Homo sapiens: one gene and its partner. The protein of the gene in region 1 interacts with the protein of each later gene in a pairwise test. Each region holds a gene or a part of one and is shown in the gene's direction. Other genes may lie near its edges.

What was found.
Region 2: the proteins of AGR3 (region 1) and CD46 interact in binary tests that used the Homo sapiens proteins (3 or more experiments, as listed by UniProt).

What each region holds. Positions count from the first base shown.
Region 1 is NC_000007.14:16,858,856-16,865,027, reverse strand, and holds the end of AGR3 (anterior gradient protein 3 precursor), read left to right. Parts: intron 1-2,365; coding exon 2,366-2,418; intron 2,419-2,967; coding exon 2,968-3,044; intron 3,045-3,580; coding exon 3,581-3,644; intron 3,645-4,444; coding exon 4,445-4,528; intron 4,529-5,396; coding exon 5,397-5,446; 3' UTR 5,447-5,616; downstream 5,617-6,172. UniProt on the Homo sapiens protein: Required for calcium-mediated regulation of ciliary beat frequency and mucociliary clearance in the airway. Might be involved in the regulation of intracellular calcium in tracheal epithelial cells.
Region 2 is NC_000001.11:207,782,958-207,790,057, forward strand, and holds part of CD46 (membrane cofactor protein isoform 3 precursor), read left to right. Parts: intron 1-334; coding exon 335-373; intron 374-2,113; coding exon 2,114-2,149; intron 2,150-2,661; coding exon 2,662-2,725; intron 2,726-7,100. UniProt on the Homo sapiens protein: Acts as a cofactor for complement factor I, a serine protease which protects autologous cells against complement-mediated injury by cleaving C3b and C4b deposited on host tissue.

The sequences.
Region 1 (6,172 bases):
CAGGATACATACTTGTTGAACCTGAGGAGGTAGTAGAAATGTCACACATGCCAGGAGACTTATTTAATTTATATCTTCACCAAAACTACATAGACTTCTTCATGGAAATTGATGATATTGTGAGAGCCAGTGAATTTCTAAGTTTTGCAGGTATCCTCAGTGGTGACTGGAATACACGCTCTTTACTCAGGAAATATAGGACATCTATAGCTACAAGAGGTGTGATACATTCCAACAAAGCCGGAGGATATGCTCATTGCCAAGGAGAAGGATCAAGTTTTTGACCCTCGCACACACCGCAGTGGTTTCTAATACATAAAAAGTATGGGGAAAATTGCCTGGCAGCAAAAGCACTTTTTCCTGACTTCTGCCTACCAGCTTTATGCCTCCAAACTCAGCTACTGCCATACCTTGCTCTAATAACCATTCCAATGAGAAATCAAGCTCAGATTTCTCTTATCCAAGATATTGGAAGGCTCCCTCTGAAGCAACACTTCGGAAGACTGAAAATGGAAGCCCTGACTGACAGGGAACATGGAATGATCGACCCTGACAGTGGAGATGAAGCCCAGCTTAACGGAGGACATTCTGCAGAGGAATCTCTGGGTGAACCCGCACAGGACACAGAGCTGGAAACCTGGTCTCTTCCTCTGAGTCAGAATAGTGCCAGTGAACTGCCTGCCAGCCAGCCTCAGCTCTTTTCAGCCCAAGGAGACGTGGAAGAAAATATAATAATAGAAGACTATGAGAGTGATGGGACATAGAAGCCAGCCTGCTAATCAGATTGCTACTTCACAGATTCATTTTTGTTTCATTCAGTGGTACTTCAGCAGAGTTAATATACTTCTCTGATGAATTACACAACAGTTTGTTAATTCTCCGTTCCTGTAGTCTTTCATCACGAAAAACTAACTCTTCTGTCACCTTGAAGTAAATAGAAGATCAAGCTTTCAAGTAATCTCTGAATGTTTTTCTGTAGGATTTATTAAATCTATGAGTGGTTTAAGGAGAGGTCAGTGTGTATAAAGTGTGTTTGAACATTATGCCAAATATCAAAATGTGAAGGACTAATTCAGAATGCAAAAACTTTATGGGGGGCTGTAAATATGAACTATACAAGAGTTTAGGATGCAATTATGGGTGTAAAGAAACTGCGTGCCTTAAAAAAAAAGCATGTTTAGCAAATAAGTGTACAAATGTAAATGTTTAGGAACAATCTAAACACAAGAGATTGGAAACAATTTAAATATCCATCTTTGGGGAGACTAATAAGATAAAATATTAATATAATAGAATATAATATAAAAGAACAGTGGCATATCTAAGATTTATATTTTAAAAGCAAAATGTAGATACTTGTGTGCTAGTATTTTTGTTTTTTAAAAAGAAATACATACACATAAATGTGAACATGCATCTGGGTATATACAATATATAAACATATTCATATAGATTTTCAGTTATATGACCTGAAAACCTCTGGGAGAAAATATAAGAAAAAGTAATACAGCATAGTTATAGAAGTTAGCAGTAGGAGGAAGAATTTTTATCTTTTTAACTTTTTATGGTTAAAATCAAAATGACCCCCCAAAAATGTATGAAATAGGGAACTCCCACTCAGGTTGTTTGTATATTCTGCAACGTGCAAGAATGAAAGGATGTGAAAATAGCCAAATATTAACAGCTTTTTTGTAAAAACTTTTTAAAAAACTAAATGTAAAAGTCTTTGACTTTCCTGAAATCTTATACTAAGTGTTCATTGGAAATGAATACATTGTTCATAATAACCCTTTATCTCTGGATACAGAATTGATTTTCTCTAACTGCACTATAGAGTACATAAGAATTACCTAATAAGTTTGTTAAGCTACAGATTCCTGAAACCACCCCTAACCCCAGAGATTCTGATTGAGTGGGTCTGGGATGAAGCCTTTGGTTTTTTGTTTGTTTGTCTGTTTGAGACAGAGTCTCGCTCTGTCACCCAGGCTGGAGTGCAGTGGCGCCATCTCGGCTCACCGCAACCTCACCTCCTGGGTTCAAGCGATTCTCATGTCTCAGCCTCCAGAGCAGCTGGGACTACAGGCTCACACCACTGTGCCCAGCTAATTTTGGAATGGAGGCTTTCCTGATTTGGGAACGGAGCCTTTGAATTTAAATTCCTAATAAGCTACCTAGTGATACTGATACTATCAGTTCTGAGGCCACAAATAGAGTAACACTGCTATTGACTATAGTGCTATGATTTGTAAATCTGAGATTACTACTGTAAGCCTTATTGAAGCTAATAAAATTTTAAATCTAACTCTACTGTATATTTTGACCCAAAGTTAATCATTTGACTTAATTCCATACTTTCTTTGTTTAGTAAGAAGCCATTAATGGTTATTCATCACCTGGAGGATTGTCAATACTCTCAAGGTAATTTTAGCCCCTGATATCTTATTATAATATATAATATTTCCAATATAAAATAGGAAAAGTGACCTGGTAATAATAGCTAAGAAGGCGCTCAGCAAATCCCATTAAAAAAAATAGACAACTGCCAGAGTACCATCATTTTACTAAGGTGCTTAAAGACCACAATGATTGTTACCAATCTACTGAATATTTCTATTATATTCCCTTGGGAATTACATATTCCTCTTCTTCCCATGAAAAGAAAGGGGTGAGCTGAGAAGGTGTAGAAACACTGAAAAAAAGTCGTTGTCTTAACCAATGAGTCAATGAGTTACATAAAATTATAAAAACTAGTGTCTTCACTGTGATTATCCTTTGATGTCTCCTTGAACAGACTGTCCCTCATTGCTTTCCAATGAGGGACAAAGTGGCAATAGGCCAATGAACTATTAATATTTACACCTGAGTTATATATGCAAACAAATGCTAAATATTAGCTTTATTTTGCTATGTTACATTAAAGGTCTCTTGATCCTTAAAACTAACTGGCAATTTTGTTTTCCCCTATAGCACTAAAGAAAGTATTTGCCCAAAATGAAGAAATACAAGAAATGGCTCAGAATAAGTTCATCATGCTAAACCTTATGGTACATAAACTTTGTGATGTTTTCTTAATACTATAATTTCATGGAAATTTTGAATCCGTTTTTTTCTTTTTTTTTTTTTTTTTTAGACAGAGTCTCGCTCTGTCACCCAGGCTGGAGTGCAGTGGCGTAATCTGGGCTCACAGCAACCTCAGCCTCCCTGGTTCAAGCAGTTCTCCTGTCTCAGCCTCCCAAGTAGCTGGGACTACAGGCACCTGCCACCATGCCCAGCTAATTTTTGTATTTTTAGTAGAGACAGGGTTTCACCTTGTTGGTTAGGCTGGTCTCAAACTCCTGACCTCAGGTGATCCACCCGCCTCAGCCTCCCAAAGTGCTGGGATTACAGGCATGAGCCACCATGCCCAGCCTCCTTTTTTTCTATTTTTAAAGCACAAAGAGCTAAATATTGGTTAATACAGAAAGTTGTATGGAATTATAAAAGGCCAAAATAGAATTTACTGACAGTCACACAAAATCATCTTGAAACTATCAAAAACAAATGAATCCAATAACATTCTTTTTTTTTCTTCTCCTGCTAGCATGAAACCACTGATAAGAATTTATCACCTGATGGGCAATATGTGCCTAGAATCATGTTTGTAGGTATGTATGTGATCTCATTTCATCAGATCTACAAAATTAGTAGAAATCAGCATTCTTGCTTTTATTTTTAAATGCTAGTTCAAGTACTATTCTTTTTAAAGAGAAGTCATTTCTAATCCAATAATATCAGCTCTTGTTAGTTCTACAATCAAAATCCACTATATCTGTAATTTGAAAATTTTAAATATTTTTTCAAAGCATGTATGCTATTAAATCTATATCCCAATGTACTTTCAACACAGTGCCCCAGACTAGATTGACAGAGACCTATGACACACTAAAAGGAGAATTCAGGTTAATTCATGAACTGACATGTATGAAAACTAATTTTGCTTATAAATTGGTTTGACATTTGTTTTAGATTATAAATTGGTTTGACATTTGTTTTAGATTAAGAAACAAAAATGATTTTAAGAACGTTTTATGGATGTAGCCAGAGGCCATTATCCTAAGCAAATGAACACAGAAACAGAAAACCAAATAGTGAATGTTCACACATATAAATATGAGCTAAACACTGGTTACACATGGACATAAAGAGAGGAAAAATAGACAATAGGAACTCCAAAACGGGGGAAGGAGGGAGGGAGCCAAAGGATGAAAAACTAACTGTTGGCTACTATGTTCACTATTAGGGTGTTGGGTTCAGCTGAAGCCCAAACTTCAGCATCACACAATATATCTGTGTAACAAACTTGTACACATAACCCCCACATATAAAATAATAATTAAGTTTTTACAAGAGTAAAGAAAAGAACATGCTAAATTATACTTTCGTGACTTGGTTTTTTCCTTGACAGACCCTTCTTTAACAGTTAGAGCTGACATAGCTGGAAGATACTCTAACAGATTGTACACATATGAGCCTCGGGATTTACCCCTATGTAAGTATTCACAAATGATCTCAAACAGTGGTCATAGCTGACCCCTGACTATTTGTTAAGGGCTAGTGAAGCCCTACATCAGTGCTTCTACACACCAGTCACTGAGGCTAGTGGTGGTGTTTAAATGCCAACTTCTAGCTCCCACCAAAATCAGAATTTTGGGGGTACCTCAGAATCTATTTTAACAGGGATGTCTAAGGGATTTTAGGATTACTAAATTCTGAGCTCACTAAAAAGAATATAGTACACATTAAAATGACACAAACTTGAGACAGTCCATTCTCCTAGTATCAAAGATCTCATGTGATTTCATCAAATGATAGTAAAATCATTTCATCTTTCTTTAATGCCTATAAGCAAGGAGGTACAGTCTTACCTAGGACTTTAATCCTTTTTTTTTCTTTTTTGTAGAGACAGGGTCTTGGTATGTTGCCCAGGCTGGTCTCAAACTCCTGGCCTCAAGTGATCCTCCCACCTCAGCCTCCCAAAATGCTGGGATTACAAGCATGACCTACCATGCCTGGCCAAATCTATTTTTTACAACATTCATTATCAACTATATTTAATAAGACAACTGTGCCTGTAAGATCTAGCAATACTAATACAAAGTGATGCATTAAAAAAAAAGAGGTACTCCTCAAAACCCCTCTGATGAAATTGTTCAACATAAAGTTGACCAACCAGCTCTCAATGGTCTAATCCCTAAATTTACATGTACACTTTTAGCATATTCTTTAATGTCATAGACGAATTCCCATGTTCAAAGCTATTAATTTAAATGGGCCAATTTCAGGTTCTAGAGTTAATAGATCATAGCATTTGTACTTTCATTTATTAATAGCATAATATATATTAACTCTTATTTCAGTGATAGAAAACATGAAGAAAGCATTAAGACTTATTCAGTCAGAGCTATAAGAGATGATGGAAAAAAGCCTTCACTTCAAAGAAGTCAAATTTCATGAAGAAAACCTCTGGCACATTGACAAATACTAAATGTGCAAGTATATAGATTTTGTAATATTACTATTTAGTTTTTTTAATGTGTTTGCAATAGTCTTATTAAAATAAATGTTTTTTAAATCTGAGACTGACAATATAGTTTTATTTCTGCCTCATCAGTAGCAAAGAAAGCCTGCCAAGAGTTATAGTGGAGACAAGAAGACCTAAATAAGAGGTGCCTATACAGTTTGTCTCTATTTCTTCACCTCTCCTTCACTCCATCAACTAATCTAATTTTATTTTTAATTTTCTAAATTTTTTTTTTTGAGATGCAGTCTCACTATGTTGCCCAGGCTGGTCTCAAACTCCTGGGCTCAAGCAATCCTCCAACCTTGGCCTGCCAGAGTGCTGAGATTATAGGCCTGAGCCACTGTTCCTGGTCTAACCACCAACTAATCTAATTTTAATTCTGTCTCCTCCCCTGTACCATACCTGCTAACCCAGGTCATAAATGATCTCCATGTTACCAAAACAAGTGGATAAATCTCTGTCCACTTGTGACTTTAACTTTTAGCTACATATTTCAGCACTAACCACTTACTTCTTTTCTTACTTTACACTTAGACATTTAAAACCTAATTATATTTTAAAAATTCAACTACATTTATTTATTTATTTGAGACAAAGTTTTGCTCTGTTGCC
Region 2 (7,100 bases), on another chromosome or scaffold:
CTCTATCTTTTAATTTTAATTAGAATCACATTGGATTTATAGACTAATTTTGAGAAAATAGTACAGATAAATTTGCATGTTGAACCACAGAATGTTGTCACAGAAAATGTGAGTGGGGAGGAAGAAGAAAGATTATGACATTAAATGTAAGTTTATAAATTTTTATGATACTACTTTGAGAAACATTAATATAGTTTATAAGGAAAATTATATTTTAAGGGATTTTCTACAAAGGTGAAAAAAAATCACCCTATGAGTTTAAAGGATTTTAAGCTTTATATTTAATTCTTTCCTTCTTTTATTAATTTAATCTATATTTCTTCTTTTTTCCTAGGATATCCTAAACCTGAGGAAGGAATACTTGACAGTTTGGGTTGGTATAGCTATCATGACAAATATAAGTGGTAGTATGTGTAGAAACGTGTAGGTAATTAGTTTTTATGAGGTGCCCAAACATAGGATCCTTGGTAGGGTAAGATAACTTTCTTAAATGCTGTGTTTGTATGTAGGTTAAAATATATAAAACACAATTTTCTTTCCACATTATATTGTTATTTTGTGATGGTAATCTGTCGATAAATTTTCTTTCTATTCATATCTTATATACATGAACCTTAAAGCAATCTAAGTTGGGTTTATTTTTTCTGTAACACGCTGATTTAACACACTTGATGTAGGCTTACGCAGTTTACACAATGCATGTTAAAAAAAAAGATGAAGTGCAGTTGTGATATAGGCCAATGAAAAATAAAGATTTCTTAATAAGTAAAAACAAAAATCTATTACCTTTCATTTCTTAGACTAGTTTGGTAATGGTTAATCATTTTATATAATGCACCTTAGGCTTGTTTTTTAGTATTTGCCTTACCTCCAAAATCTGTGGTCCAAGTAAATCTGTTGCCATCTTAAACTGTTAAACACTTGATAACTGTTTATGAGATGAGAAGAGCAGAGTTGAACATAGCACTTTATGCTTTGACTTATAGCAATTTAATAAAAGTAATGGCAGTTTAGAAGCAAAGGTACTAGGGACAGAAACAGTTCTAAAAATTAAGATTTTATAGGATTATTTTGTGTTCTCTAGATAGTCAAAAATGTATTCTCAAATTTCTCTGTATATTTTTTATCCATGTGCCCTGGTGTTTCATTTATTATGGGAATCCTATTGGTATTTAGGACTATGTCTTAATTTTGGGGCAGGGCAGAGTATGGAAGTAGAGAGGATGGGAAGGGGATTGATAAGATAAAGTATTGTTTGTGAAGACTTTGTAAATACCATCTGGGCAATAGAATAATAGAAATTTATTTATGACTCACTCTACAGATCACTTTTGGAGGAAAAAATACAAATTAAATGTCTACCAAAATAAGAAATGACAGAATGACTGTTGAACTAAACCAACTCTCATGGGATAATACTTTTCAAAAATCATTTTCCTTTACTATAGTGAATTCTAATTACTCTAATAACTTTACCGCTAAATAACCTGATGTGGTAGCTATAGAGAAAAACAGTGAAAAATGAGGTTCCCATTAAGAGTTTCACAAGTGGAACCCTTAACCTGGAAACTGGTTAGAAGGGTTCTATGATCAAAATGACCTGGATGCCCTAGCAGTCATGCTAAAACTATATAAAAAATTTTTTTTTCCTCTGTAGTCTTGTATTAGTCCATTCTCAATGCTGTTGTAAGGAACAGTCTGAGACCGGGTAATTTATAAAGGAAAGAGATTTAACTGACTCAGTTCTGCAGGGCTGAGGAGGCCCCAGGAAACTTATAATCATGGAGGAAGGGGAAGCAAACACATTCTTCTTCACATGATGGCAGGAAGGAGAAGTATGAGAACCAAGTGAAGGAGGAAGCCGCTTATAAAACCATCAGATCTCGTGAGAACTTACTATCATGAGAATAGCATGGGGGAAACTGCCTCCATGATTCAATTACCTCTCATGGGGTCCCTCCCACAACACGTGGGGATTATGGGAATTGCGATTCAAGATGAGATTTGGGTGGGGACACAGCCAAACCATATCAAGTGTTTAGATGATCTGATTGAAATAAATGCTATCTGGAGATCCATGTGTTCAACATCTTGGAACTGTTTTCTTTCTCAGATGTTTGGGTCATTGCTGTGATTGTTATTGCCATAGGTAAGTATCACAAATTTTGACACCACTTAAGTCAAAAAATTATTGTGAAGACATGCATTTTAAAAATAGTTTTTCAGTTTCTATAGTTTTTTCAGCTTGTAAATTGGTTAAACCGATTTAGGAAAACCTGACTTTTTATTTGATATACTTAACTACCTACCTTGTGTTAGTGATTTTATACTCTGTTATATTCTGTATATCTACTTAGTAACAAAGCCTAAGTAATACATATTTTCTCAAGATGATCAGTAATATTAGTTGGCTTCCCAAATGTGCTTTTGATAGTTTTCTAAATTAAGCAAGGACTTTTCTCTGACTTACTATGGACTGTGTAAGTGATTATGGGGAGTTGGATTTAGATAGCAAAGAGTCTGGATGGAATATAAATGTGTAGGTGCTTAAATAACATTTGACCACTGAAATGTAACCAACATTTATTTCTTCTGCTAGATGTTGAATCTTGGTGATTAGTTTTCAGAATTATATGTCATTTGTTTCCTGGTTTCTTATAGTTGTTGGAGTTGCAGTAATTTGTGTTGTCCCGTACAGATATCTTCAAAGGAGGAAGAAGAAAGGGTAAATTAAAGCATGTTTCTTTTAACTTCTTGGTCCTTCTTATACTTAACATGCTTTTGTGCAGCTTCAGTTTGTAATCTGTATTGCATGCTATCTTTTTTTTTTTTTTAAAAAAATGCCTGCATTAGTTTGTCCTACCAATTGCATTTCTTTGCTAAAAATATTTTCAGCTACTTCTAACATCACTGCAACATAAAAACATCTGTGCAGAGTTCCTACAGCTATTATGACTTTAAGAAAAATTTCTTTTGGATTTGAGGTTTAAGTTATTTAGCAAATCATGGACCACTCACTATGAGGCCTTCTCTACCCTATTCCCTATTTCCAAAATTGCACTAATGGCCAAAATTAAATTTAAAGTATTTCACTGTGGAGACTTTGACAGTTGTATTCACTGGAATTTTTATAATGAAAGTTTCCACTTGTCTATATAGCTTAGCTAGTTGCAAGAAGCTATGTAGGCATATCATTTAAATACCCAATTTGGTGTCTTTTCATTTAAAGTTGTTATTTATACATGTTAAACTGGGGGATTCAAAACAACACTATCCGATTTCCCTCTTATGTTCTCTGAATTTACCAGATTGCAGTAAAACTGATAGGGTTAAAGTTAAAATTGCTGAGAGGGGTTAGATCTATAAGGTACCTCAATTAACTGTGTCTTTTAATATATAAAAATGTAAAAAGTGAGTGGGTTTAGAATAGAAGAAAAATGTACAAGTACATATCTTCTAAAGAAAATAGGGTTTTAAAACATCAAACTCAAATTTTAGTTAAAGAGCTTACAGTTTAACAAAAGACTTAGAATGAATCCTGGAACACAGACTAAGATTAGGTGCTTTGAAATTTCTGAAAGATAATATACATTCATTTTTACTGATTTTTAAAAACTGTTTTCCCCTATAGTTTTAGAAATAGCTTTGAAATCAAACCTAATAATTTTAAGACTTTTGGTACTCATGGTTTTATGATATATATTCCTTTTATACTGATCATCAGGTTTGGGCTAAGTCATAAAAGTACAAGCTTTACTCATAAGGAACTCAAACTTTTTTCATATTACTTGGTTATCTTTTGAAATACCCATAATCCCTTCACTTGAATCTTAAATCTTGTATTAATGGAACACGATATGCATATTTGATTTATCTATCAGTTGTATATTCTAAAAGTTACATATCTACAACGTGAGTACAAAATATTATCAATGGAATATTTTTACAAATCCATAAGGTTTGCGTAGAAACAAGTTCTAAAGAAAACAAAACAAAGTCGCATTCTGCTTATTTTCCTTCTTTGTTTAAAATATCACTGCATCAGAATTTTTAAAGGTTCATTAACAAGTATTAATCAAACTCTCTCTAGCTAGCAGTTAATGGTTTTTCTGTTGTTGTTTTTTGCTTTTTTGTGATGGAGTCTTGCTCTGTCACCCAGGCTGGAGTGCAATGGCGCAATCTTGGCTCGCTGCAACCTTGGCCTCCTGGGTTCAAGGGATTCTCTGCCTCAGCCTCACGAGTAGCTGGGATTACAGTCGTGCACCACCACCACCGGCTAATTTGTTGTACCTGTACTAGAGATGGGGTTTCACCATGTTGGTCAGGCTGGTCTTGAACTCCTGACCTCAGGTAATCCGCCCACCTCGGCCTCCCAAGGTGCTAGGATTACAGGCATGAGCCACCGCGCCCGGCCTTAATGGGTCTTTTAAAGCTCAACAGTTATCTGACTGTTACACTCCCAAATGAAAGGTTCAATAGCAGTAGTGAACTGAGATTCCAAAATTAATTTGTCCAGTGATTTTTTTTTAAAGCCCATATTTTACAGCATAGGGTCCAACTGACAGTTGCCATTATTAAAATTTTAAAATATTTTGGGAAGGTATGATATCTTTAGCCAATGCAACATAATTAATCCTGCAAATAGTAGCACAACTTGAGGAAAAATAGTCCAGAAAATGGTGTGAGAGACGAAACTCCTAATTGCCTTTGAACTTTAAAATATAAACTGCGTGGGAATCTTTTAGAATAGATGTTACCCTTTTTATGACAGGAACATACTCGATTGGAAATTCAGCATATGTAATGGCTGAATCCAAAGCTAGGCTCTCTTTATGGATCTATTATTTTGTAGTTCCATGTTATTTTGATAGCTGAACTGAATGTGAGGGTGGTTTATCTTTCTTCTTCAGAGTCTAGAGGAATGTTTCTCTGACTTTAATGTGCACATTAGTCACCTGGAAATCTGTTAAAGTACAGATTCTGATTCATTGGGTTTGGGGTGGAGCCTGAGACCCTGCCTGTCTAGTGAGCTCCCAGTGCTGATGCTGCTGCTGTGCCTGGGCTACACTGACCAGGGTGTTGCCCACTACTGATGTGCCTATATTGTTGAAGTCTGAAGAAACACTATGAAGCTTATTGGCAAATTTTTCTAATATTTAAGATAATTGAAGTTTTTAAGATTCCTCATCCATGTGTATCCTTAAAAAAAGGCTATGGGGTAATAAATAGTACTTGGCTTTTCTTACCTTCTTTAACTCTTAAAAAACAAAGATTTCCAGCCGGGCCTGGTGGCTCACGCCTGTAATCCCAGCACTTTGGGAGGCCGAGGCGGGCAGATCACGAGGTCAGGAGATCAAGACCATCCTGGCTAACACGGTGAAACCCCGTCTCTACTAAAAATACAAAAAAAAAAAAAAAAAAATAGTGGCGGGCGCCTGTAGTCCCAGCTACTCTGGGAGGCTGAGGCAGGAGAATGGCGTGAACCCCGGAGGCGGAGCTTGCAGTGAGCGAGATTGCGCCACTGCACTCCAGCCTGGGTGACGGAGTGAGACTCCATCTCAAAAACAAAAAACACAAAAAAACCCCAAAGATTTCCATTATTTTCTTTGCACTGTTTAATGTCCATAATCTTGTCCCCCCAGATTGGCTGTTGTGGCCTTAGAAACTTCTTATAAAGACTATAAAATGTCTGGAGGCACTTCTCCACTTCCGGGGGTAACTGGAAGCAGGCTAGCAGGCACAAATAATCTCAAATTGTTGTTAAAGCCTGGCACAAAATGTATTTCTTGTAAACTGGTATTTATGGTGATTTGGGAACGTAATTACTCTTCTGCAGCCTTCATCTCAAAATACAAAAATAGTGTAAGGAGTCATTTTAAGATCATCCAACATCATTTACATTACTTGATAAAAAGTGGGCAAAAGGTTAAAGTATTCTGCCACTTTTCTGTTTCATAGCTCTCAGCTGAGAACAGTATAGGATACCAGTGGGTCCGAAACAGGTCCCATCCACATGCTCCCTCCTTTTCCCTTCCCATTTCCTTTCTTTACTAATTCTTCTACCATACTTTTTAGTCTTGGAAGCCACAGCCCTGTCTTTGCTACTGCTTCAGTCCTGTATTGCATGGCATGACTGTGCTTCTGAACAACAGATGCCTTTTGTTTACATAAATATTTAAGTAATGGTTTTTTTTAAATGCATGATTATTTTTTAACTCTAGTTAAGCATCCCTGGATAAGTGACAGTTTGGCTAAGTTAGTGAAAGTTATTTACATAATTTATATATTTATTACCTGTGACAAATAGTTTTTCCTTTTTTCCATTAATGGTATTTATTATTTTGTATAACCTAAACTGACTTTTAATGTTACATTAATATTGACTGACCCAATTACTTTATTAAAAATAGTGGTCAGTTCAGGTAATTGGGGCATATAGTGACATGGGGCAAAAAAAGGATCAAATTAACTTAAATGTTTTTCTAGTTGGCCCTTAAATTCTTGAGCATTTAACCCTTCAAAAATTTTTGAGCAACTACAAAAATGTTTTGTAATTAGTTTAGAAAGCATCCTTACAAAATTAGATCCATCTCAGAAATATGAGACGCCATGTAATACAAAGTTTTGCAACGATGTCTCCTCAGGTTGAAAACAGATGTGCCACAGGAAGACACTTCTTAATGTAAAAGTCCAGAGACATCTGAAAATACATGATGTCATAAAGTTGATTTCTAGATAATATTACATGGATTTGATACATACTCAATGTATTCCCTCAAAATTGAGGGTGTTAGGCCGGGTTTGGTGGCTCACGCCTGTAATCCCAGCAACTTTGTGAGGCCGAGGCAGGCCGATGGCTTGAGCTCAGGAGTTTGAGATCAGCCTGGGCAACATAGTGAGATGCTGTGTCTTGAAAAAAAAAAAAAAAAAAAAAAAAAAAATCAAGAGTGCTAGAGACCGGTACCATTTCTCCCCAACAATCTGTTATTCCTTGAAAACATTTTGACATGAATCACTTCATGCAAAATGGCTTCAAAGATAAACATATTAAACAGGAATTTCCAGTCTGTTTATCTGCTGGATGATCTATATGACTTCAA